Linked DNA regions of Homo sapiens. The protein of the gene in region 2 purifies or fractionates together with the protein of the main gene of each other region. This does not show direct contact. Each region holds a gene or a part of one and is shown on either strand. Other genes may lie near its edges.

The links.
Region 1: the proteins of IDH3A (region 2) and SUCLA2 fractionate together in Homo sapiens (co-fractionation; 2 studies listed by BioGRID). This does not show direct contact.

What each region holds. Positions count from the first base shown.
Region 1 is NC_000013.11:47,998,240-48,010,939, reverse strand, and holds the start of SUCLA2 (succinate--CoA ligase [ADP-forming] subunit beta, mitochondrial precursor), read left to right. Parts: upstream 1-9,666; 5' UTR 9,667-9,670; coding exon 9,671-9,760; intron 9,761-12,700. UniProt on the Homo sapiens protein: ATP-specific succinyl-CoA synthetase functions in the citric acid cycle (TCA), coupling the hydrolysis of succinyl-CoA to the synthesis of ATP and thus represents the only step of substrate-level phosphorylation in the TCA.
Region 2 is NC_000015.10:78,153,627-78,166,361, forward strand, and holds part of IDH3A (isocitrate dehydrogenase [NAD] subunit alpha, mitochondrial precursor), read left to right. Parts: intron 1-1,586; coding exon 1,587-1,649; intron 1,650-3,281; exon of another isoform or gene 3,282-3,536; intron 3,537-3,921; coding exon 3,922-4,005; intron 4,006-6,465; coding exon 6,466-6,580; intron 6,581-7,954; coding exon 7,955-8,142; intron 8,143-8,607; coding exon 8,608-8,741; intron 8,742-9,880; coding exon 9,881-9,983; intron 9,984-10,089; coding exon 10,090-10,154; intron 10,155-11,365; coding exon 11,366-11,450; intron 11,451-12,523; coding exon 12,524-12,676; intron 12,677-12,735. UniProt on the Homo sapiens protein: Catalytic subunit of the enzyme which catalyzes the decarboxylation of isocitrate (ICT) into alpha-ketoglutarate.

The DNA.
Region 1 (12,700 bases), on a different chromosome or scaffold from region 2:
CTCTTCATCAACGTATCTTAACTGAAATCTGGTTTTTCCTGAGGTCAGCACTTTCCCAGACAAGGCCAAGCTAGCCCAGAGTGTGGGTCTGAACAATTTGAAAGGCATACCTTTTGAGCTGACACAGTCCACTGGAGCACAGCGTAGGCAATGATTCTTCTAACATGTCTCTTTCTCTACGTTTAGTGCTGGCTGTTTACTCTTTTCTGCTGCACTTACCTCAGGATCTGCCATGAGGTTTTGTGTCTGCCTTGCTTTCCACTGCTTCTTCTAGATCATTACTGCCTCACTCTCCTGAGACAAATTATCTCATACCACAGGTCATACTTTTTTTTTTTTGTAATGGAGTCTCACTCTGTCACCCAGGCTGGAGTGCAGTGGCACGATCTCAGCTCACTGCAACCTTCGCTTCCCAGGTTCAAGCAGTTCTCCTGCCTCAGCCTCCAGAGTAGCTGGGATTACAGGCACACACCCGGCTAATTTCTTTTTGTATTTTTAGTAGAGACGGGGTTTCACGATGTTGGTCAGGCTGGTCTCAAACTCCTGACCTCGTGATCTGCCTGCCTCGGCCTCCCAAAGTGCTGGGATTACAGGCGTGAGCCACCGCGCCTGGCAAGTCATACCTTTTGACTCTTTCCTAGTCCCTGTCCCATACTTGCCTCCAGGTTACACTCTATCATTCAACAAAGACTTAGATGTGTGGCTCACAGACTTCTCTTTCCAGTGTGCCCTCACCTTCCGTGGAGGGCCCTCAAAAACTCCAGTTTCCTCATTTCCACTAATCTCTCTACCTCTTCCATGTACTTCCACGACACTGTTATCACCTGGACCTTCTACCTTCAAAATAGCAAATTTAAGCATTTTGATCTGTAACCATGCCCTCCCCTCTTAACAGTCCCAGCCGGTCTCTGACCCTGGGAGGATGGAACCTGGGAGGGGGTAGAGCGTAGAGTGTAATCTGAGGCCTGTGCTAATAGTGATTGACAGAGGAGCAACAAGGATGCTAAAAAGTCATCACCTTTTACTACTTGTCTTTGCATCTTGGCTCTCACTGCCTAGCTTTCATGCTGTATCCTCTAATACCTTTTCATCATAATTTTAATATCCTGAACATTGTTGAAGAAGTGCAATGTTTGGAGAACGTTCGGGGTAGCTCCACCACCCCACTTTCCACAAGCCATGCTTCTACTTTCCCTTCTAGCCTCATATTCAACCATTTTCGCTATTGTTGTTCTTTAATCTCCTTGGGTCCTCCAGTCCACTACTGCCCCCTCTCCTTTACTCCTTCCAGTCCATCAGGCTTCTCCTCTTGGATTCATGGTCTTTTATTTCAATAACATTCTCACCAAATACTCTAAATTGCCTTGACCCACTGCCACTTCCTCATTACAATTTGGCAAAACCACACCCTGAATGAACACAATGGTTTGCTTTCCCTGTGTTTGCCCCGGGCCTCCCAGGCTGCTGGAGAAAAATTACACAATAGGCACATTTTTGTAGGTATATAGTCACCATCACCAACCTCAGATGGTTCTTAACACACCCCAGCAATCCTGCTACTTTTTTCTGTTAACTTTCTTTCCTGCACTCTATAATGAAAACTTCAAACCCTCTTCACTCCCTTCAAATTTCTGACTCCCTCACCTTTCACCTAATTTCCAGTAGATCATTTTGACTCCTTTCACTCAGACAAAATCTAAGCTTTTGACAGGACCTCATTCAATTCACTTGTACAAAACCTACCCTCTACCTACCTCTGCATCTACTTCCTCAGTTTTCCCTCCTGTGGCTTCAGGAGAGGTGTTTCTTCTCTCATCCAGGCTAGTGTCTCGACAAGAGTTGTAGAATTCTTTCTATCCTCAAGAGGCCTACTGTGTTATTTAATCATTTTCTCTCCTTTTATTGTTTGCTATTATTTAACCTCTCACATGCACCTGAATTATTCCCATTAAGTCTTAATCATACTCAGATCTCTTCCATCTAAAATCCAAACAAATAAACAAATGAAAACAAAATGAAAGGAACAAAAATAGTCAAGGTCATGGTCCTTTTTAACTGCTCTTGTTGAGCCGTACTCTTCATCCTGCAAAGCACATATTTTAGTTTTAGTTATTTATTCATTAGTGTGGGTATTTAACTCGTGTCTGCACTCCAAGTAGAGTGTAAGTCACGTGAACAGTGATGCTGTGTGGATTTTTGCTTGCCATTGGACCTTCAGCTGCTTAGATCCACAGCTGGAACAGAGCTGGCATTCACTCAATAGTTATTTTTTGGTTAAATTTCTTCATTCATTCAGCACTTAACTTCTTGACACTGAATCAGCACCAAAGATCAAGCGCATAGACTTGCCTTCAAGGAGCTCAAGTCTGGAGAGGAAAAGAGGTCAAATACCCCAGTGATTTCAATATAATGTGATATGTGCTGTGAAAAGGCATACACAGCACAACAACTTCTGCCTCAGCCACGGTGAGAGTGGAGCATGAGAGGTAGGCAGAGGCAGTCAGGAAAGGGTTCCAAGATGAGTTGTCCCTTGCATTGAATCCTGATAGAGTTTGGCTCTGAGTCCCCACCCAAATCTTGTTTTGAATAGTGGCTCCCATAATTCCTCCCTGTTGTGGGAGGGACCCGGTAGACGGATCAAGAGATTACAGGCTACAGACATATTAAGGAGGAAGAAAAGAAGTAGATCTTTCTGTATTCCATTGGCAGGGCAGAGAGGAAATGTGGTATTGTGGGGAAAATTCTGCAGCTAGAGTCGCCAAGTCTGGTTTAGAAGGTCAGCTCCGTCACTTATCGGCTAAGACAATTCTCCTTCCTCAGCCTCCTGAGTAGCTGGGATTACAGGCACACGCCAACACGCCTAGCCAATATTTGTATTTTTAGTAGAGACGGGGTTTTACCATGTTGGTCAGGCTGGTCTTGAACTCCTGACCTTGTGATCCGCCCACCTCAGCCTCCCAAAGTGCTGGGATTACAGGCGTGAGCCACCATGCTCGGCCTTTCCCCCCATTTTAATTTAAGTTTTAAATTATGGGCCCATGAATTTTTATTTTATTAATGACTTGTAATATGATACATTCTTTTTTAATGTTTACATTCATTATAGGTAGATAATTATAGGTTGAGATAATTATAGGTTCACATGCAGTTGTAGGAAATAATACAGAGTGATCCCTTGGACCCTTTACTTAGTTTCCAACAATAGTAACATCATAACTAAGATATTGATACAGTCTAGATACAGAACATTTCCATCACTAATAAGGATCCCTCTTGTTGTCCTTTTATAGCCATACTTCTCTCCCATACCTCTCTCTCATTCTGGCACCTACTAATTTGTTCTCCATTTTGTCATTTTGAGAATGTTATTTAAATGAAATCATATAGGCCGGGCGCGGTGGCTCACGCCTGTAATCCCGGCACTTTGGGAGGCTGAGGCGGGTGGATCACGATGTCAGGAGTTCGAGACCAGTCTGACCAACATGGTAAAACCCAGTCTCTACTAAAAATACAAAAATTAGACGGGCGTAGTGGCATGCGCTTGTAATCTCAGCTACTCAGGAGGCTGAGGTAGGAGAATCGCTTGAACCCAGGAGGCAGAGGTTGCAGTGAGCCGAGATCACGCCATGGCATTCCAGCCTGGGCGACAGAGGGAGACTCCGTCTAAAGAAAAAAAAAAAAAAATGGAATCATATAATGTGTAACCTTTTGGGATTGGCCTTTTTTTTTTTTTTTCTGAGACAAAGTCTCACTGTTGCCCAGGCTGGAGTGCAGTGGCCGGATCTTGGTTCATTGCAACCCTTGTCTCCACAGTTCAAGCAATTCTCCTATCTCAGCCTCCCTAGTAGCTGGGACTACAGACATGTGCCACCATGCCTGGCTTATTTTTGTATTTTTGTGGAGACGTGGTTTTACCATGTTGGCCAGGCTGGTCTTGAACTCCTTCCTGACCTCAAATGATCTGCCCGACTTGGCCTCCCAAAGTGCTGGGATTACAGGCATAAGCCACCATGCCTGGCTGGGATTGGCTTTTTAAACTCAGTAGAATTCTGAATGTATTAATCGTTTATTCCTTTTTATTTCTTAGTATTCTGTGGTATGAATTTATCACAATTTGTTTAGCTATTCATTAATTAGAGGACATCAGAATTATTTCTAATTTTTGGCTACTATGAATAATGCTGCTATAAACATTAGTGTACAGGTTTTTGTGTGAACACAGGTCTTCCTTTCACTGGGATAAATGCCCAGGAGTGCATTTCCTGGGTTGTACCGTAGTTGCATGTTTAGTTTTTTGAAGAAACTGACAAACTGTTTCCCATTTTACATTCCCACCAGCAATGTGTGAATGATTCATGCCCATGTCAGCATTTTTATTGCACTACTTTTTATTTTAGCTAATCTGACAGGTGTGTAGTAATACCACATTGTTGTTTTAATTTTTATTTCCCCCAATGTCTAAAGATGTTGAACATCTTTTCATGTGCTTATTTGCTGTTTATATGTCCTCCTTGGGAAAATATATGTTCATGTTTTTTGCCTATTTTATAATTGGATTATTTGCTTTTATATGTTGTGTTTGAAAGTAATTCATATATTCTATGTATTAGCTTTGTTGGATGTGGTTTGCAAATATTTTTCCTCTGTGTGTAGCTTGACTTTTTATCCTTTTTTTTTTTTGAGATGGAGTCTCTCCCAGGCTGTAGTGCAGTGGCTCATTCTCGGCTCACTGCAACCTCTACCTCCCAGGTTCAAGCAGTTCTCCTCCCTCAGCCTCCCAAGTAGCTGGGACTACAGGTCTGCGCCAACACACCTGGCTAATTTTTATATTTTTTTATTAGAGATGAGGTTTTGCCACATTGGCCAGGCTGGTCTTAAACTCCTGACCTCAGGTGATCCACCCCCCTCAGCCTCCCAAAATGCTGGGATTACAGGTGTGAGCCACCACACCTGGCTGAATTTTTACCTTAACATGGCCTTTTGCAAAGCCAAAGCTTTTATTTTGATGGGGCACAATTTATCAATTTTTTTTTTATGGATCATGCTTTTGGTGTTGTCTAAGAATTCTTTACCTAGTTTTAGATCTTGAAATTTTCTCCTATTTTTTTCTAAATGTTTTATGGTTTTGTGTTTTACAGTTAAGGTAATTTTGAGTTAAGTTTTGTATAATATGTGAGATTTTGGTCAGGGCTCTTTTTGATTGTTTGCTTGCTTATGGATGTCCAATTCCTCCAGCACCATTTGTTTAAAAGACCATATTTCCTCCGTTGAATTACTTTTGCACCTTTGTCAAAAATCAGTTGGGCATATTTGTGTGAGCCTATTTTTAGGTTTCTTATTAAGTTTCATCAATCTATGTGTCTCTCTCTCCAGCAATACCACACAGTCTTGATTATTGTAGCTATTATAGTAAATGTTGAACTCAGACTGTTTCTTCCCACTTTGTTCTTTTCAAAATTGTTTCAGCTATTCTAGTTTGTCTTTTCACATAAAGTTTATAATACTACGTCTGTATGTATAAAAAGTTTTGCTTGAATTTTAATAGAAATACATTAAATGTATATATCAATTTGGGGAAGAATTGACATCTTTACTGTGTTAGGTCTTCCAATCCATTAACATGGTAATATCTCTTCACTTATTTATCTTCTTTGATTTATGTCATCAGTATTGTGTAGTTTTCAGCAGGTAAGTCCTGTTCATGTTTTATTAGATTTACATGCATTTCATTTTTAAAAGGAATTTTAGGTGGTATTGTATTTTCGATTTGGGTCCATGTGTTCATTGCTTGTACCTAGAAATACAATTGATTTTTGTATATTTTTCTTGTTTCCTGAGATCTTGCAGGGCTCACTTATCAATTCAAAGAGTTTTTTTTTTTTTTTTTTGGTAAAATGTTTGGGATTTTATACACAGACAATCATCTTATTCTTGTCAGGCCTCTGAGCCCAAGTCTGCACGTATTCATCCAGATGGCCTGAAGTAACTGAAGATTCACAAAAGAAGTGAAAATGGCCTGTTCCTGCCTTAACTGATGACATTCCACCATTGTGATTTGTTCCTGCCCCACCTTAACTGAGCGATTAACCTTGTGAAATTCCTTCTCCTGGCTCAGAACCTCCCCCACTGAGCACCTTGTGACCCCCACCCCAGCCTGCCAGAGAACAACACCCTTTGACTGTAATTTTGCTTTACCTACCCAAATCCTATAAAACGGCCCCACCCCTATTTCCCTTTGCTGACTCTCTTTTCCGACTCAGCCCGCCTGCACCCAGGTGATTAAAAAGCTTTATTGCTCACACAAAGTGAGTTTGGTGGTCTCTTCACATGGACGCGTGTGAAAATTGTGTATAAATTACCTGAGGGTTGGTAATTCATAAAGAAAAAAGGTTTATTTGGCTCATGGTTCTGCAGGCTAAACAAAAAGCCTAGAGCCAGCATCTGCTTCTGGTGAGGGACTCAGGAAACTTCCCCAAATGGCAGAGGGTGAATGGGAGCTGGCATGTGCAGAGATCACACTGGAAGAGAGCAGAAGTGAGAGAGAGAAAGAGGGAAGGTGCTAGGCTGTTTTTAACAATGAGTTCTTGGGAGAACTCTCACAGGAGCCAATACAATGAGAACTTCTCATTACCCAGAGGACAGCACCAAGCCCTTCATGAGGGATCGGCCTCCGTGATCCAAACACCTTCCACCAGGCCCCACCTCTAACATTGGAGAATCAGATTTCACCATGAGGTTTGGATGGTCAGATATCCAAACTATAGCAACAATTATGTTATCTGTAAATAGTGAGAGTTTTCTTTCTTTCTTTTCACTCCATATGTTTGTAATTGCTTTTCTTGTCTATTGCACTGACAAGAACTCCCAGCACTATATTGAATAAAAGTGGTGAGAGCGAACACCCTTGCCTTGCTCCCAGTCTTATGAGAAGAGCATTCAGTCTTCTCTCACCATTAAGTATATTAGCCGTAAGTTTTTTGTAATCCGGTTTATCAAGATGAGGAAGTTCCCCTCTATTCCTGTTTATCTGAGTTTTTAATCATGAATGAATGTTGGAATTTGTAAGATGCTTTTTTTGTTTTTTTTTTTTTTGAGATGGAGTTTCACTCCTGTTGCCCAGGCTGGAGTGCAATGGCACGATCTCGGCTCACTGCAACCTCTGCCTCCCTGGTTCAAATGATTCTCCTGCCTCAGCCTCCTGAATAGCTGGAATTACAGGCACATGCCACCACACCCAGCTAATTGTGTATTTTTAGTAGAGACGGGGTTTCTCTGTGTTGGTCAGGCTAGTCTCAAACTTCTGACCTCAGATGATCTGTCTGCCTCGGCCTCGCAAAGTGCTGGGATTACAGGCGTGAGCTACCATGCCTGGCCTGTTTTTTTTTTTTTTTTGTAATGGGGGTCTCATTATGTCACTCAGGCTGGAGTGCAGGGGCACGATCACGGTTCACTGCAGCCTGGACCTCCTGGGCTCAAGTGATTTCCCCCCCATCTCAGTCTCTGGAGTAGCTGGGACCACAGGTGTACACCACCATGACTGGCTAATTTTAAAATTATTTATAGAAATGAAGTCTTGCTATGTGGCCCAACCAGTTTGGTCTCAAACTCCTGGGTTCAAGCAATCCTCCCACCTCGGCCTCCCAAAGTGTTTGGATTACAGGCATGAACCATTGTGCCCAGCTACTTTTTTTGTTTTGATCGAAATTATCATGTGATTTTTCTAACTTAATATAGTGCATTACACATATTTTCAAATATTAAAACAAACTTACATCTCTGGAATATATCCCACTTGGTCATATTGTACAATTCTTTTTATATATTTCTGAATTATATTTGCTAATATTTTGCTATGGATTTTTCCATCAATATTCATGAGAAGTGTTGGTATTTTTTTCTTTTTGTACGGTCTTTTGCTGGCTTTGGTAGTGGGGTGATTCTAACTTCATACAGTACATTGGCAACTGTTCCTTCCTCTTCTATCTTCTGGAAGAGGCTGTATGGAATTGGTGTTAATTCTTGTGTAAACATTTTATAGAATTCATCAGTGAAAGCTTTTGGGCCTGGAGATCTCAGGTTTTTTTTTTTTTTAGTTTAAAAATTACAATTACAATTTTCTCTAGTTAGAGGACTATTTAAATTACCTTTTCATATTAGGTTATTTGTAGTAATTTGTGCCTTCTGAAGAATTCGCTCATCTTGTCAAAGTTGTCAAATTTATGTTATGTGGTGTTATTTATGGCATTCCTTTTTGGTGTCTGAAGGTTCTGTAATTATATTCCCTGGTATGTTCCTCACATTGGTAATTTGTGTCTTCTCTTTTTCTTTTTTCTTTGCAGTCTTGCTGGAGGTTTGTTAAATTTATTTATCTTTTCAAAAACCAGATCCTTGGCTGGGTGTGGTTGCCCACACCTGTCATCCCAGCACTTTGGGAGACTGAGGCAGGAGGATCGCTTGAACCCACGAGTTGGAGACCAGCCTGGGCAACATAGAGAGATTCTGTCCCTAAAAAAATAAAATAAAAAAATCAACCAAGCCTGGTGACACACATCTGTGGTCCCAAACTACTCCAGAGGCTGAGGTGGGAGGATCCCTTGAGCATGGGAGGTTGAGGCTGCAGTGAGCTGTGATCGCGTCACTGCACTCCAGCCTGGGTGACAGACCAAGACCCTGTCAATCAGTCAATCAATCAATCAATAGCTTCCCTGGAGACTCCAGCCTGCCACCAGCTTTGGTAACTAGTGGCCGACTGTCAGGCCTCTGAGCCCAAGCCTGCACGTGTACATCCAGATGGCCTGAAGCAAGTGAAGAATCACAAAAGAAGGGAAATTGGCCGGTTCCTGCCTTAACTGATGACATTCCACCATTGTGATTTGTTCCTGCCCCACCTTAACTGAGTGATTAACCTTGTGAAATTCCTTCTCCTGGCTCAGAACCTCCCCCACTGAGCACCTTGTGACCCCCGCCCCTGCCCGTAAGAGAAAAACCCCCTTTGTAATTTTCCGCTACCCATCCAAATCCTATAAAACAGCCCCACCCCTATCTCCCTTTGCTGACTCTCTTTTCGGACTCAGCCCGCCTGCACCCAGTTAAAATAAACAGCCTTATTGCTCACACCCTGTTTGGCGGTGTCTTCACACGGATGCGCGTGACACCGATCTCTTTGAGCATCAGAAGCGCATGACACCGACCATCTTCTCTTTGAGCATCACAAGCGCGTTACACCGACCATCTTCTCTTTGAGCATCACAAATGGTTTTATTCATTGCTGTAGGCCAAGGGCTCAAGGCTGTTTAGCACGAAGTAGACACTGGGTAATCATTTCTTGAATGAAACACATTTTACAGATGAGGCAACTGAGGCTGAGAGAAGTTAAGATCACCCAAGTGGCGGCGCTGGTCACCTTTACATTGCAATTCACTAGGAAGTGTTCAGGTTGCTCTGACCGCAGGGCAGATATTGGGGCTGCGGTGCCCAGTTCCAAAGGTCAAAGCTTGCTCCGCGCCCGCCAGGGAGCTGGTCTAGCGGCTGCAGTGTTAACCCGAGGCCCCGCCCCCAACGGGTGGCGCGAGGCGGGGCGTAGGTGAGCGCTGCAGAGAGGCTGCGCCTTGGGCCGCCTGTCGCCTGTGCGCCTGCGCGCGGCGCCGAGGGGACGGGGTCCGACTCAGAAATGGCGGCCTCCATGTTCTACGGCAGGCTAGTGGCCGTGGCCACCCTTCGGAACCACCGGCCTCGGACGGCCCAGCGGGCTGCTGCTCAGGTAATGCCTTCCAGTCCGCTGTCGTCTCGAGGGTCGGCAGGAGAAAGGGTGAGGTGTGAGGGGTCCCGTGGCCCGGCTCGGGGTCACTTCGCCGGCAGTGACATTTTCTGGGTGCCCTGCAAGGCCCTCGGGCGACTTGCCTGGGAGTGCTGCTCGCCAGGACTACGAGCGAGCCCATGTTTGCGCGGCTCTGACCCAGCCCTTAGTCCGCGAGGATCCCCGGCGGCCCGGCCGTGGCTGCTCCTGCAGTTTCTAAGAGATGGGCGGGAGCAGGTGGGCTCTGAGTGGAGGTGAGGGGGTCAGGACATTTTCTGCTGCCATTCCGGCGTCTGGCACGGTGGGCTGAGACTTGCGCCGCCCCTTTTTGGGCAGGGGGGAATGCCCTTCAAAAGTACTTTTGTGTTTCTTGGGAGCTGTCATAGGTGGGAATGTCAGAGGACCAGCGGTGCTTACTGACTTGCCTTTTGTGGGGCAAGGTAGGGAAGTTTCCCCTCTCCTCCAAGTAGTTGTATACTGTTCTACTTGTTAATAGCAGTAATAAGATTATGTTTTCTACCTAACCAGTTGGAGAGGTAAGAAAATAATCTTTTGTATAGCCTTATTTCTGGATAGGCTATAGCATAATAGTTACTGGCCTTGTTTTGAATATTTGATGTGTGCCAGGTAATGTGCTAAGCGCTTTACGTGTAGTTTCTCAGGTTTTTCAGCAACTGTGAGGAAGTCATTCAACACCTGCATCATTGTTGAACATATTATGGTTAAGAGAACAAGTAATTTGGACTAGGTCATATAGGAGGTAAGATCAAAGCTGAGATTTAATCCCAGAGGTGTCTGGTTCTAAAGCCGTGTACTTGAGTTGGCTCCACAACTTCGAAAACAAACATCTTCCTTCCAACTTTGACAACAAAAAACTGTGGAAGGGCATTATTGGTGTCCTAAGTCAATTCCAGAGTTTTGGGTTTTTTTCTGAAGTAACTCTTCATACATGTCATAGTATGAATTGATTTAGGGCCCTCCCGCCCCTACCTTTTTTTTTTTTTTTCATTTTTATTGAAGTTGTTCATACTTTCAGCCTAGGGGTAGTGAGTTCTGTGAGTTTGCTTCCCGATAGAAGTGACTTTTTGACCTTGAACTTCCTTCTTATGAATCTTAGAAGAGTGCTATTTAGTTTTTAGAAAATGGGGAATTTAGTGACAAATACGTTTTCATTCTAGTCAAAATCTTTATCTTTTTGGAAGTTCATTTAAAAGCCTTCATTTCTCCTTATGGAAATTTCCAATATTATTTTCTTTATAACAGTTGCTGTCTTCTACCCTGGTATTAAGAAATGCAGCTCTAGAGTTTGGAAGGACCTTAGTCCAACCCTTTGCTTTTGTAGATGAGGACATAGAAGTACGGAGTCTTAAGAAACTCGTTCAAGGTCACACATTTAATTTAGCAATTTGTTTTCCACATTTTTTTTTTTTTTTCCTTGAGACGGAGTCTTGCTCTGTCGCCCAGGCTGGAGTGCAGTGGCGCGATCTTGGCTCACTGCAAGCTCCGCCTCCCGGGTTCATGCCATTCTCCTGCCTCAGCCTCCCTAGTAGCTGGGACTGCAGGCGCCTGCCACCACGTCCGGCTAATTTTTTGTATTTTTAGTAAAGACGGGGTTTCACCGTGTTAGCCAGGACGGTCTCGATCTCCTGACCTCGTGATCCTCCCGCCTCGGCCTCCTAAAGTGCTGGGATTACAAGCTTGAGCCACCGCACCCGGCCTGTTTTAAACATTTGTTTAAGTTCTCTGACCCTCCTCCAATTTCTTGGTATCTTTAGCCTAGTGTACCTTCGTTGAAAATAGATATTTCAGCATATGTCTTTAAGAATAAGGACATTCTTCCAAATAACCGCAGTGATCATACTTAGGAATTCAACATTGCTGTAACATGAATATATATAGTTTAGATTCAGATTTTTCTAGTTGTCCCCAAAGTGTTCTTTATAGACATTAGATTTTTTAAAAATTTAAACTGGGATGAGACCTTGTGACATTTTCTCTGACCAACTAACCAATTAGGTGCCACCTAGTGACTTATGTGCTAGTGACCTAGTGCTCTTATATGTGTTGCAGTTGTTTATTTACATGCCTGTGAACTCTGTGGCTGGGACCCAAGTGTCTTTATTTTTTTAGTGTCCCTAGCCCACTGTCTAGTTCATAGTCATCACAAAAAATATTTGAGTGTATGACTTTTTGCCAGGCTTATGCTAGTTACTCCCCTACCCACTAATTTTTATTATTATTTTGACGTATAATTTATGTACAGTAAGATGTACAGCTTAAGTGGATAGCTAGATTAATTTTTATGTATGTATTCACCTGTGTAACCATCGTCTGCATCAAGATATACAATGTTTCCAGCCCTCAGAAGGCTCTCATGTCCTCTCTCTTATCAATACTCCCTGACAGAAGGTAGCAACCAATTATGACTTCTGTCACCATAGGCTAATTTTGACTGGTTTTGAACGCTATAAAAATAAATCATGTAAGTATATATTCTTGTTTCTGGCTTCTTTCTCTCTACATTATGTTTGTGAGATTAATCCATCGATGTGTGAGCCATAGTACTTTTTTTCTTTTTATTTCTCTGTAGTATACTATTATATACATATACCACAGTTTATCCATTCTCCTGTTGATGGGCAATCAGCTAATTTCTGTTTTCTGTCTGTTATAAATAAGCCTGCTCTGGACACTCTAGACATTTTTATGTGTGCCTTTTGACAGATGTAAGGACTAATTTCTATTGATACATACCCAGGAATGGGATTTCTGAGTCAGAAGGTGGAGGTATACTAAACAGTAGTTTGAGAGGTTGCTGGGTTTTTTTTTCTTTTTTTTTTTTTTTTTAACTTATTTATTTGTTTTTTTAGACAGGGTCTTGCTCTGTTGACCAAGCTGGAGGAC
Region 2 (12,735 bases):
TTCAGCAAAGGTTCAGACCCCAGAAAAAAACATCAAGATAGGATATAACAAATGTGTCTTTGCTCATGTATCTAGCAGGAGAAAAAGTTACTTTTTAAAAAATTTAATGCAGCCGGGTGTGGTGGCTCATGCCTGTAATCCCAGCACTTTGGGTGTCCAAGGCAGGTGGATCACCTGAGGTCAGGAGTTTGAGACCAGCCGGGCCAACATGGAGAAACCCTGTCTCTACTAAAAATACAACAAGATTAGCCGGGCATGGTGGTGCATCCCTGTAATCCCAGCTACTTTCAGGAGGCTGAGGCAAACCCAGGAGGTGGTGGTTGCAGTGAGCCGAGATTGCACCATTGCACTCCAGCCTGGGCAACAAGAGTGAAACTCTGTCTCAAAAAAAAAAAAATTTAATGCATTTTAATACCTTTGGTCTATGTACCCAGTTTCTTTTTTTATATTGTTTATAATAATGTAGTATGACTTTGTACCAGTTCTCAAGGACTAAGTTATTAAAGTTTATAATAAACCTTTAAAATTTATATTTCTGGCATATGATGTTAATTGGAGAGAGAAAAAAAAAAAAAAACACGTACCAGTGGTAATATCTTGGTGTGGTGGGATTACTGGGTAACTTTTATTTTATATTTTGTATCTTTTCCTAGTCCCAGCAAACTGACAGTAATGACCACATTACCTATATTATCAGAAGAAGCAGTAATTTATTTAAAATCTTTATTCTGTATGGCATGGGCATCAGATGGTATTAAATAAACTTTCTTAGATTTTACTATAAAGTGTAATTTCTTAATATTCACAGAATAGATATAATGTATAATTGAAGGAGCACTGGACCAGGAGTCAGAAGACCTGTATGTGGGTTTCCATTTTGCCAATTATTCGCTGTGTGACCTTAGGCAAATGCTTTTCTTTGGGACCAGCATCTCCGCTTATGAAATAAGCAAGTTGCCAGGTGTCGTGGTGCACACCTGTAATCCCACCTACTCAGGAGGCTGAGGCAAGAGGGTCACTTGAGCCCAGGAGTTGGAGACTGCAGTGAGTTATGATTGTGCCTTTGAATAGTCACTGCACTCCATCCTGGGCAACCTAGGGAGACCCCATCTCAAAAAGCCTAAAACAACAACAAGAAATAAGTGAGTTGTGCTCTGGATTTCATGAGGAACATCCTGGCTCTAAAATTAATGGTAATTTTCTTAGAATATATGTTACCCCTAAATTGACCGAATGGTCAAGAATGTTGGCACAAAATGATCCACTCATCTGAGAAGAATCTGTATGTTGAGCTGAAAAAGTAGTTTTATTCTACCTTCAACATCTTTTATTTGACAACTTATATTCGTTAAATTGACTTTGAAAATATACAGTACTCAATCTAAAGTAAAAATCTGAGTATTTAGGCTTTCAAATCTGAGATAGCTTGCCACATTGAGCTAATACATGAGATTTGTATTCCTGGGAAGCTACTGAATATATCTGTGCCAAGTTGCAGCATTACCATCCATCAGGACTTCCTCGCTCTTGTTTACTGTATGTGGTTTAATTCTGTGTGTGATATTTCTCTGTTGATATTAATATAGGTCTCTCGGCTGCTGGGGGCATTCCACAACCCAAAACAGGTGACCAGAGGTTTTACTGGTGGTGTGAGTATAATTATGTCTTTTATTTTTTCCTTTTAGAAGTTTCTCAAGAAAGATGCTCTAACATATTTATTATATAGCATTTTATCTCCATTCATTTAGAATTTGGGAAAATTGGCCATATTTATAATGTATGTTGAAATTACTGGCTGACATGCACAAATCTGTTAGGTTACTTGCGCATTTGAAAGAATTATCTTACAGCTGGCTATGTAAGTTTGTCACATTAATATCTTGAGGGAGCCTTGTTAAAAATAGAAAGTACCCTTGAGCCTGTTATTTTATTTCACAATCTCATTTTGGTGAGACAGCTTTTTTCAAAACTAGTACAAGTTGAGAGAAAATTGTTGAGAAGCTTCAAAACCTGCTTTGCATTTTTATTTTATGGGCTTCCCTAAACCCAGTAGATTGAGTGCCAATTAGGAATGCCTCGAACATCTATAAGCCTTGTAGGCTTATACTTGCCTTATATAGGCTTTGTAGACTATCACAGTAGTAGATCATCTATTGTTCATTAAATCTGCTGCTTTTAGAATTCCCAGCATCAGAATTCTGTGCTTTAAAAGCTGATACCACATTTTTGGAACATTCTAAGACTGTGGGTCAGTGACTTCCTATTTGTTTTGATCCCCGCCCCGCCTTTTATGGAATCTGATTTGGATTTCATAATTCCTATACTCCCATATAACATCTATGCCGTGAAAGATTTATAAGACCATAGTACATTTTTTCCTCCATTTACTTTCTGTATTGTGGAAGAAAAGCAGATTTTCTGGTGACTGGATGACATTTATTATTACATGTTGGGAGAACAGGAAGAAGTAGCCAAAGCGTTCTTTTGGCTCTGCTTATGCCAAAAATGCAGGATGGGGCTTGCACTTCAAGCTCAAGGATAGCCATGCTAGCATTTCAAACGCATTCTGAAAGCTAATAAGATGATCATTGCTCTCTGCTATTATTTAATTTTCAGGCTATTTATTTGAAAAAAAAATTAGCTTGATGGAGGAGGTTATTTTTGAAGAAATAAGAGGATGTATTAATTTTTTTAAAGACTTCTTCAACCCGAGAAAACTGGTATGAGCCTTAGCCCTGGCTAAGACTGAGGTGGGAGATTTGCTTAAGGCCAGGAGTTCGAGGCTGCAGTGAGCTGTGATCACACCTGTGAGTAGCCACTGTGCTCCTGCCTGGCAATGTAGTGAGTCCTCATCTCTAAAAAATAAAAATTGAAAATTAGAAAAATGAAAAAAATAAAAATGTTTCTTCAGTTGTACAGAAACTAATCAGAAATAATTAGTCCACGTATCTGGGCAGACATCATTGGAAGGCAAAGGACCAAGGAAACTTGAATTAGTGACTTTTTAAAAATGCAGTTCAAGCAACTAGAACTGAAAAAAAGCCAAGCCCCTAGGTGGGGTAAAGTCCCAAGATAATAAAATATGTGGTTCCCAAATGGAAAAAGAGGTGCTGATCTTCTCCCTTACATATTTTTATTTCTGCATTTGAAATGCTGGCTTCGTTTTGCCTGAAGCCTTAGAATAAATCATTGCTGTTACATTATAAAAACAATAATTGTCATTCTAAGTGTGACTCAGGCTTTGCAGGTATGATGACATATACTATTCTTTTTGGTTGCAGATCAACTTTGCCAAGCTTATGTAGATTACTCTTAGATTTAAGCAGACAGTTTTATAGAGGAACTAAGAAAAAAATGGAAGCTCTCTTGATAAAAAGTCTGATTTTCCCTGAGTACCAAAACAGACCTCAGTAATATTTTGGAAATGTGTCTGAAAATGTTTTGCAAGACTGAAGAAGTTGCATGAGAAGCTTTCCAGGATCACAATGGAAAGGAAAGGAAAACACTTGCCTTCATGAGAAACCGTCTAAATTTTAGTGAGAGAACATTGTTAATTTTTTGTTGTTGTTGTCTTTGGTTTAAAAGATTTGAATTAATTGGTCTCTTTGCAGCTTGTCTGAAAAGAAATATCAATTAGGAAATCTACTTGGTAGTTTAATTTATTTTCGTTTTATGTAAAGAGTATCATTTGGTTCTTTTTAAAACCTCTGAACTCAGGTAAAGAGTAGGATTGCAGAGTCTCTCCTCTGTTGATTCCTGCCTCCCCTTTGATGACCCCCGGGGAGGTATGTTTGTTTTCTTAACAGCATTTGAATCTTCCTGAGACATCTCATAAAGTGGATTTCTCTGTCAAAATATTCTTTTTTAAGCCTTCAAAAACAAAAATTCTTACTGTCTTCTTTGATGATTTCTTATGTTCAGGTTCAGACAGTAACTTTAATTCCAGGAGATGGTATTGGCCCAGAAATTTCAGCTGCAGTTATGAAGATTTTTGATGCTGCCAAAGTAAGTGGGCTTAAAAAATACATTTAATGATGACTCACTGAAAAGTTTTCTTAGCCAGTTGGATTCTGTGAACTTTTAGGATGCATTGTACCCATTTCTATGAAATTTAGTCAGGTCTGTTGTTAATCTCCACCGATTGTCACTTTAACAGTGTGTGTCTCAGTGTTTGCTACTGCCATTATTTCTTTCTTTCTTTTTTTTTTTTTTTTAAATTTAGAGATGAGGTCTCGCTCTATTCCCAGGCTGGTCTTGAACTCTGGGGCTCAAGCGATCCTCCCACCTTCACCTCCCAAAGTGCTTGGATTATAGGCGTGAGCCACCGCACCTGGCTGGCTGCTCCTGTTGTTGATAGTTTAAACTCCTGCATTGGCATCAGTTATATGTAAAGTAATCAAAGTAGTACTGCAGTATTTGTGGATCTTTAAGTCCTGCTTGGGTTTAAGATCTTTTAAGCCCTGCCAAATCACCCACCTTTTTGCAAAAAATAAAATAAAATAAGACTAGAATTGCTGTTTCCAAAATCTATACAGGCGCTTTTGAAATAATCTCTTTAAAATAAAATTTCTGATGTGTTATCAAGAATGGAATGTTATTACTTCTAACAGCTGAGCCTTTGATACAGGTAGATAATTTAAAAATTCTGTAAGTGGATTCAGCTGTAAGCTGCTTGTGAACAGCACCGTGTCTGTCTGAGCTCGTGTCCTAGGACATGTTCAGTGTGCTAGCTGTATACACATGAAGGATGTAGGTAGAGAGAAAGGGATGCTTGTTTATACCTCCAACTGGTACATTCATAGGTTATGCAATACATACATACATATATATATATATATTTTTTTTTTTTTTTTTTTTTTTTTTTTTTGAGACAGAGTTTTGCTCTTGTTGCCCAGGCTGAAGTGCGATGGAGCAATCTCGGCTCACTGCAACCTCTGCCTCCCGGGTTCAAGCGATTCTCCTGTCTCAGCCTCCCAAGTAGCTGGGATTACAGGCACATGCCACCACGCCTGGCTAATTTTTTTATTTTTAGTAGAGACAGGGTTTCATCATATTGGTCAGGCTGGTCTCGAACTCCTGACCTCAGGTGATCTGCCCACCTTGGCCTCTGCACCGGGCCTGGCCTATATATATATTTTAAACAATGTAATATTGTTTTTTAAAAACAGCTTTATGGAGATATCATTCATCCTTTATTTTTTATTTTTATGTTTCATTTGTTTTGAGACATTGTTTCGCTCTTGTTGCACAGGCTGGAGTGCAATGGCATGATCTTGGCTCACTGCAACCTCCGTCTCCCAGGTTCAAGCTATTCTTCTGCCTCAGCTTCCCGAGCAGCTGGGATTACAGGTGCCTGCCACCACGCCCAGCTGATTTTTGTATTTTTAGTAGAGGCGGGGTTTCACCATGTTGGCTAGGCTGGGCTGGAACTCCTGACCTCAGGTGATCCACCCACCTTGGCTTCCCAAAGTGCAGGGATTACAGGCGTGAGCCACCACACTGGGCCTAATTCATCCTTTTAAAATGTACCTTTCAATCCAGTGGTTTTTAGTACATTCACAGAGTTATGCAACCATCACCACAATCTAATTTTGGACCATTTTCCTCACCGAAAAAGAAACCCCATACCCTATGCAGTCGCTCCCCATTTCGTCTCTCTCCCTCCCTACCCCCTCCTCCTTTTTCTTCCCCCACCCTAGGCAGCCAACCACTCATCTACTTTCTGTATCTGTAGATTTGCCTATTTGGGACATTTCATATAAATAGAATCTTATAATATATGGTCTTTTATGATTGGCTTCTTTCACTTAGCATGATGTTTTTAAGTTTCATCCATGTATCAGTACTATATGATGTTTCTGTGAACCATATTCCTCTGCTACTTATGATATTCTAACTATAGCCACTGTTAAGAGCCCTTGTGAAAAGAAATAAGTGGGCAGGTGGTAGCTGGGAGTGATGACTGGGCACAGATAATGTAGAGAATCCCTCTGGGCCTGCTAGAGAATGACATCTCTTCTTGCATGCCAGGAACCTTCTGGACCTTTACTGTTTTTAGCAGTCACATCCAAAGTTGAAAAAGGGCTGGGCCCGGTAGCTCACGTCTGTAATCCCAGCACTTTGGGAGGCCGAAGTGGGCAGATCACCTGAGGTCAGTAGTTTGAGACCAGCCTGGCCAATATGGTGAGACCCTGTCTCTACAAAAAAAATACAAAAAAATTAGCTGGGTGTGGTGGTGGGCGCCTGTAATCCCAGCTACTCAGGAGGCTGAGGCATGAGAATCGCTGGAACCTGGGAGGCGGAGGTTATAGTGAGCCAAGATTGTGCCGCTGCACTCTAGCCTAGGCGACAGAGCGGGACTCTATCTCAAAAACGAAGTTGAAAAAGTTTGTTCATCATTGCAGTATGAATGCCAGTTTCCTTTAAGTCTCTCCAGCTCACTGTGCTCTGTGATGTGGCATCTAGGCACCTATTCAGTGGGAGGAGCGGAACGTCACTGCCATTCAAGGACCTGGAGGAAAGTGGATGATCCCTTCAGAGGCTAAAGAGTCCATGGATAAGAACAAGATGGGCTTGAAAGGTAGCACTGAAGTAGAGACGGGGGTTTTTACAGATTTCCGCTACAGGGGTTACTTAGTTTTGAAAATTTATGCATTTAAACTGAATAAGGCCTGGCCATCTGTGAAGGTAACGCCATTCTTTTATGAAGTAACTACTCATAGTAAGATGTTTTATTCATTTGGGACATTTTTTTCCCCCAGTAAAAAACATTAAAGTATTACTGGATGATGCCAAATAACAGTATCTCTATTTAATCTTCAACTATATATATCTTTTGCTTAATTTTTACATTTGTATATTTATTTATTTACTTAATTTTTTTGTGACAGAGTCTCGCTCTGTTGCCCAGGCTGGAGTGCAGTGGTGTGATCACAGCTCACTGCAGCCTTGACCTCCTGAGCTCAAGCAGTCCTCCCACCTCAGCCGCCCGAGTGGCTAGGACTACAGGTGTGCCACCATGCCCAACTAATTTTTTAAAAAGTTTTTTGTAGAGATGGGGTCTCACTATGTTTCCCAGGCTGATCTGGAATACCTAAGCTCAAGCAATCCTTCTGCCTCTGCCTCCCAAAGTGCTGGGATTACAGGCCTGACTTAGCCACTGTGCCTGGCCTACATTTTTATTATTATTTTAATTAATACATGTTTAAGGCCATAATTCAAAAATACTAGCATGTGGTAGATTTAAATTCAGCATAGGCTTTATTTTTATATTTTTTGAGAGTCTCGCTCTGTTGCCCAGGCTGGAGTGCAGTGCCGTGATCTCGGCTCACTACAACCTCCGCCTTCTGGATTCAAGCTATTCTCCTGCCTCAGCCTCCTAAGTAGCTGGGATTACAGGCACACACCACAACGCCCAGCTAATTTTTGTATTTTTAGTAGAGACAGGGTTTCCCCATGTTGGCCAGGCTGGTCTTGGACTCCTGACCTCAAGCGATCCGCCTGCCTTGGCCTCCCAAAGTGTTGGGATTACAGGCCTGAGACTGTAGGCCAGAGCAAGCATAGGCTTTAAAGCCACAGACAGAACCAACATTGAATCTCATCTCTGCTACTTACTGGCTAGAAGGCTTGGGCAAATTTTTTATTCTTATTTTTTCTTTTTTCGTCATTTTTAAATGACAGTAACAGAGTTGCTGTTGTACGGGGTGATGATAAGGATTATATCATGTCAAGCACATGATTACAATGCTTGATCCTCAGGAAGTTCTGAAGATAAGAAACGCAGTTAATGTTCCAGAAAGCTCCCGTGAGGAAGTGTTCCTCCTTCATTTGAATCTCAGGTAGAGAGTGAACTAGAGGCAGAACACATTTCACAAGGTAGCCGAGGTGGGTTAGTAGGTCACACGTGAGACCAGAATTCCTTCTAGTGTCATCTGGGTTTTCTTCTGTATAACAGGCCCTTTGAAGACCCCAATAGCAGCCGGTCACCCATCTATGAATTTACTGCTGCGCAAAACATTTGACCTTTACGCGAATGTCCGACCATGTGTCTCTATCGAAGGCTATAAAACCCCTTACACCGATGTAAATATTGTGACCATTCGAGAGAACACAGAAGGAGAATACAGTGGAATTGAGCATGTGGTATGTTCACTCCAGATTCTTTTTTATTCCTGCTTGGACTGCTTTCTGTGCATCTGGGACCCCAGAGACAGATCTGCTTTATCTCTGTGAGGAGTTGTGGGTGTTTGTCTTGGTGCTGGGTGTCTGGCTGACAGTACTCAAACAAATGTAAGGCATGGTGGTTCGCGTCACAAGCTTGGGAATATGCCCTCTGAATTTTGAATCCCCCACTTCACAGGTGCGCTCTTCCGCAGATGACTGTCTCTGCATCTCAGTTTTCTTCATCTGTGCAGTGGGGCTCATAATACTTACCTCTTAGGGCTGGAGTTAACATGAACCCCATTGTCGTAGCAGTGTGTGTGATTAGTCATGCTAGCTGGCACTGTGCAGGCCTGCCACAAATGTTACTGTCTACTCCCCACCCTCTGTCTCCCACTGCGTTGCTGTCACACTCTTTCCAGCAAGGTGGGACTTCCTGTCTTGCAGATTGTTGATGGAGTCGTGCAGAGTATCAAGCTCATCACCGAGGGGGCGAGCAAGCGCATTGCTGAGTTTGCCTTTGAGTATGCCCGGAACAACCACCGGAGCAACGTCACGGCGGTGCACAAAGCCAACATCATGTGAGCTCCTTGCGGGGGCCGGCACCCCATCTTGCTTTGTTGTGGGAGAGCAGTGACAGGGCTTCCCTTTCTCCTCTTCAGCTTGTTCCTTGATTCCTAATATCTTTGAAAAAGAACTTTGTAACAATCCAAAGATACGGCATCTCTCTTCTGTCGGAGTCTCCTCTTTTCTCCTCTGTTTTTTTTTTTTTTTTTTGAGACGGAGTCTCTTTCTGTTGCCCAGGCTGGAGTGCAGTGGCGCGATCTTGGCTCACTGCAACCTCCGCCTCCCGGGTTCCAGCAATTCTCTTGCCTCAGCTTCCCGAGTCACTGGGACTACAGGCACATGCCACCATGACCGGCTAATTTTTGTATTTTCAGTGGAGATGGGGTTTCACCATGTTGGCCAGGCTGGTCTCAAACTCCTGACCTTAAGTGATCCGCTCGCCTTGGGCTCCCAAAGTGCTAGGATTACAGGCATGAGCCTCTGCGCCCGGCCTGGAGTCTCCTGTTTACTGCGCCTCCCTGGGCGAATGACAGGAGCAAATGAGGAGGGGATGGTGATTCAGGTCCTGGAAGCTCAAGGAAGGACTGAGGGTTATCAGGAAAGGAAATTGGAGCCTCGGGGTCCCCAGATGCTGTGGCCATCAGCAGAGGCCACATAGCGTACGTTTTAGAAGTGGAATAGTGGGAGGCTTAAAGTAGTGCTAACAATACCTGATGTGTTACTCCAGCAACTTAAATTCTCATCCAGAGGCTGTTAAAGTCCTCTGAATATATTAACAGTTTTCCTAACCTAAGAAAAGCATTGAACATGCAAAATAGTAAAACTATTTAAATTACTATGTTAACCTTTTAAAGCAATTTTAATAATATTAGTGGGTATTTCTTCATTCTTGTTAGATAACACTATAAAAATATAGTCTTCTCTGTTATGATCAAACTATTTTACATTTTTACTCTTTTATACTTTCAGAAGGATCCTAAAACATTTTCAGCTTATATTTTATTAACTACCTAAGAAATAATTTTATTGTAATTGGGATCAGGTAGCTTGGCTTCTGGAACTTAAATGTCTTGAACTTACTTTACTTCTTTGATTTGATTCTTTTCTTTCTGTAAGACTTTTTTTTCAGCAGTTTTTATTTGATTAAATACAGGCGGATGTCAGATGGGCTTTTTCTACAAAAATGCAGGGAAGTTGCAGAAAGCTGTAAAGATATTAAATTTAATGAGATGTACCTTGATACAGTATGTTTGAATGTAAGTATATATTCACACTTACCTGCTACTTTTTATGGTGAATGGTGTCTGTGTGTTGTGGGGATGCAGATTTTGATTACTAAATGCACAAATGTATTCCTTGTAGATGGTACAAGATCCTTCCCAATTTGATGTTCTTGTTATGCCAAATTTGTATGGAGACATCCTTAGGTGAGTCTGGCTGCAACCTATTTATTTTAGCCTATGATTTACTTATAAACATCCTAAAATAATTATGGCTTAACATTTTCAATTGAGTATTGTGAAATAGAGTATTTGTTGTAACATATGAATTGAATTCTAACAGTTCAGGTTGTGATATGAATGATTACATGTTGGGTGGCTTGTTCCTTCATTGATTTGCCAAATCATTGCTGGGCTCTTTCTCCCTAATCATTATTAGGTCACTCTTCCCAGTTTTTAAATGTTTGATTGATTGATTGATTTTAAGGTTTTGTTATGTATAGCTAGGTAGGTGGGTGGTCATTGTTACTATTTTTTGGTAACTTTTGACATAATTTCAGACTTACAGAAAAGTTGTAAGAATAGTACAAAGAATTCCCTTGTACTCAGCACCCTGATTCCACATTCTCCAGATGTCAGCATTTTATCACATTTACTTTATTACTCCTTCCCACTTTCCCTCCCTTCCTCTTCCTCCTCTCCTTTGTCTGTGCTTCTCTCTCTCTCTCTCTCCCCCCCCGACACACACAGACATAAGATGTTGGCCAAATGGTGATTTTCATTTTTTTTTTTTTTTTGAGGCAGAGTCTTGCTCTGTCGCCTAGGCTGGAGTGCAGTGGCACAATCTCGGCTCACTGCAACCTCTACCTCCCAGGTTCGAGTGATTCTCCTGCCTCCCCTGAGTAGTTGGTATTATTACAGGTGCACACCACCACACCTGGCTAATTTTTGTATTTTTAGTAGGGACGGGGTTTCGCCATGTTGGCCAGGCTGGTCTGGAACTCCTGACCTCAAGTGATCTGCCCACCTTGGCCTCCCAAAGTGCTGGGATTACAGGCATGAGCCACTGAGCCCAGCTGTGGACATGGTTTTCTGTTTTATTCAGTGATATATCCATCATCATAATCATGAATATTGATGCATAGGTTGTCCTAACTTGGCTGATGGGGGTCCCTTCACCATGTCTTCTGTGTCCTTTAGACACGGCCCTTTGTTCTTTGAGCCTTGCCTTGCTTTCTGACACAGTAAGATGCTCGAGGCTCATCTGTATTTTCCTAACCTTTGCCCTGGAATCAGCCATTTATCCAAGGAATGCTACTTCCTTTTAGTGGAGAATGATAATTAAAAACTAAAATCTGGGTGCTAGGTGAGATGTTTTATTTTTAAAAACATTCTTTGAAATGCTTTTCTTCCGCTAGTGACTTGTGTGCAGGATTGATCGGAGGTCTCGGTGTGACACCAAGTGGCAACATTGGAGCCAATGGGGTTGCAATTTTTGAGTCGGTAAGGACCCTGACACCTGAAACAGAACTCAGGTCAGAACAGCGTGTGAACTCAGGAGGAGTTATCTGTATAAGTATGCTTTAACTCCAGTTTTTCAAATTGTCAAAACAAAATGATGCTTTTTTTTTTTCTCGAGACGGAGTCTCGCTCTGTCACCCACGCTGGAGTACAGTGGTGCGATCTTGGCTCACTGCAACCTCTGCCTCCCAGGTTCAAGTGATTCTCCTGCCTCAGCCTCTCAAGTAGCTGGGATTACAGGTGTGAGCCACCACACCTGGCTAATTTTTGTATTTTAGTAGAGATGGGGTTTCACCATGTTGGCCAGGCTGTTCTTGAACTCCTGATCTCAGATGATCCATCCGCCTTGGCCTCCCAAAGTTGCTGGGATTACAGGTGTGAGCCATTGCACCCAGCCTATGTTTGTTTTTATATACACCCATATATAAACATATATATATGTTTGGTTTATCTCTTCATTTCCCTCCAGGTATTTATTATGTATCCTTCCTTCCTTAAAATATTTTACCAAAAATTGACTGAAAAAGATTGTTGGTCCATATTTTTATACTTAAAAAAATTACTTTAGCTCTTTATTTCTCCAAGTCTTTATTTATTTATTTATTTATTTTTGAGCTAGGGCCTTGTTCTGTCACCCAGGCTGGAGTACACTGGTGTGATCATAGCTCACTGCAGGCTTGAACTGCTAGGCTTAAGCAATCCTCCTGCCTCAGCCTCCCAAGTAGCTGGCACTGTAGTCAGGCACCACCATGCCTGGCTAATTGCTAATTTTTTTGTAGAAATGGGGTCTCACTATGTTGCCCAGGCTGGTCTTGAACTCCTGGCCTCAAGTGATCTTCTTGCCTTGGCCTATCAACGTGTTGCGATTACAGGTGTGAGCTATCACGCCCAACCCAGACTTTATTTCTTCAGTCCATATCAGATGAATTGCACGCAGTAGCTTTCAGTGCATATTTTGTATTGCTGAGGAAAGATGGTTAAGACTCCAGCTTCCCCAGAAGAGGACTGTTAGTTTTTGTCTCTCCCTTGATGATGCTACTTTTCCCGATGTGTAGGTTCATGGGACGGCTCCAGACATTGCAGGCAAGGACATGGCGAATCCCACAGCCCTCCTGCTCAGTGCCGTGATGATGCTGCGCCACATGGGACTTTTTGACCATGCTGCAAGAATTGAGGCTGCGTGTTTTGCTACAATTAAGGACGGAAAGGTAACAGGAATCTTGATTTACTTGTGCTGGGTAAAATGCATTGCTTCCATGTGTTTTAT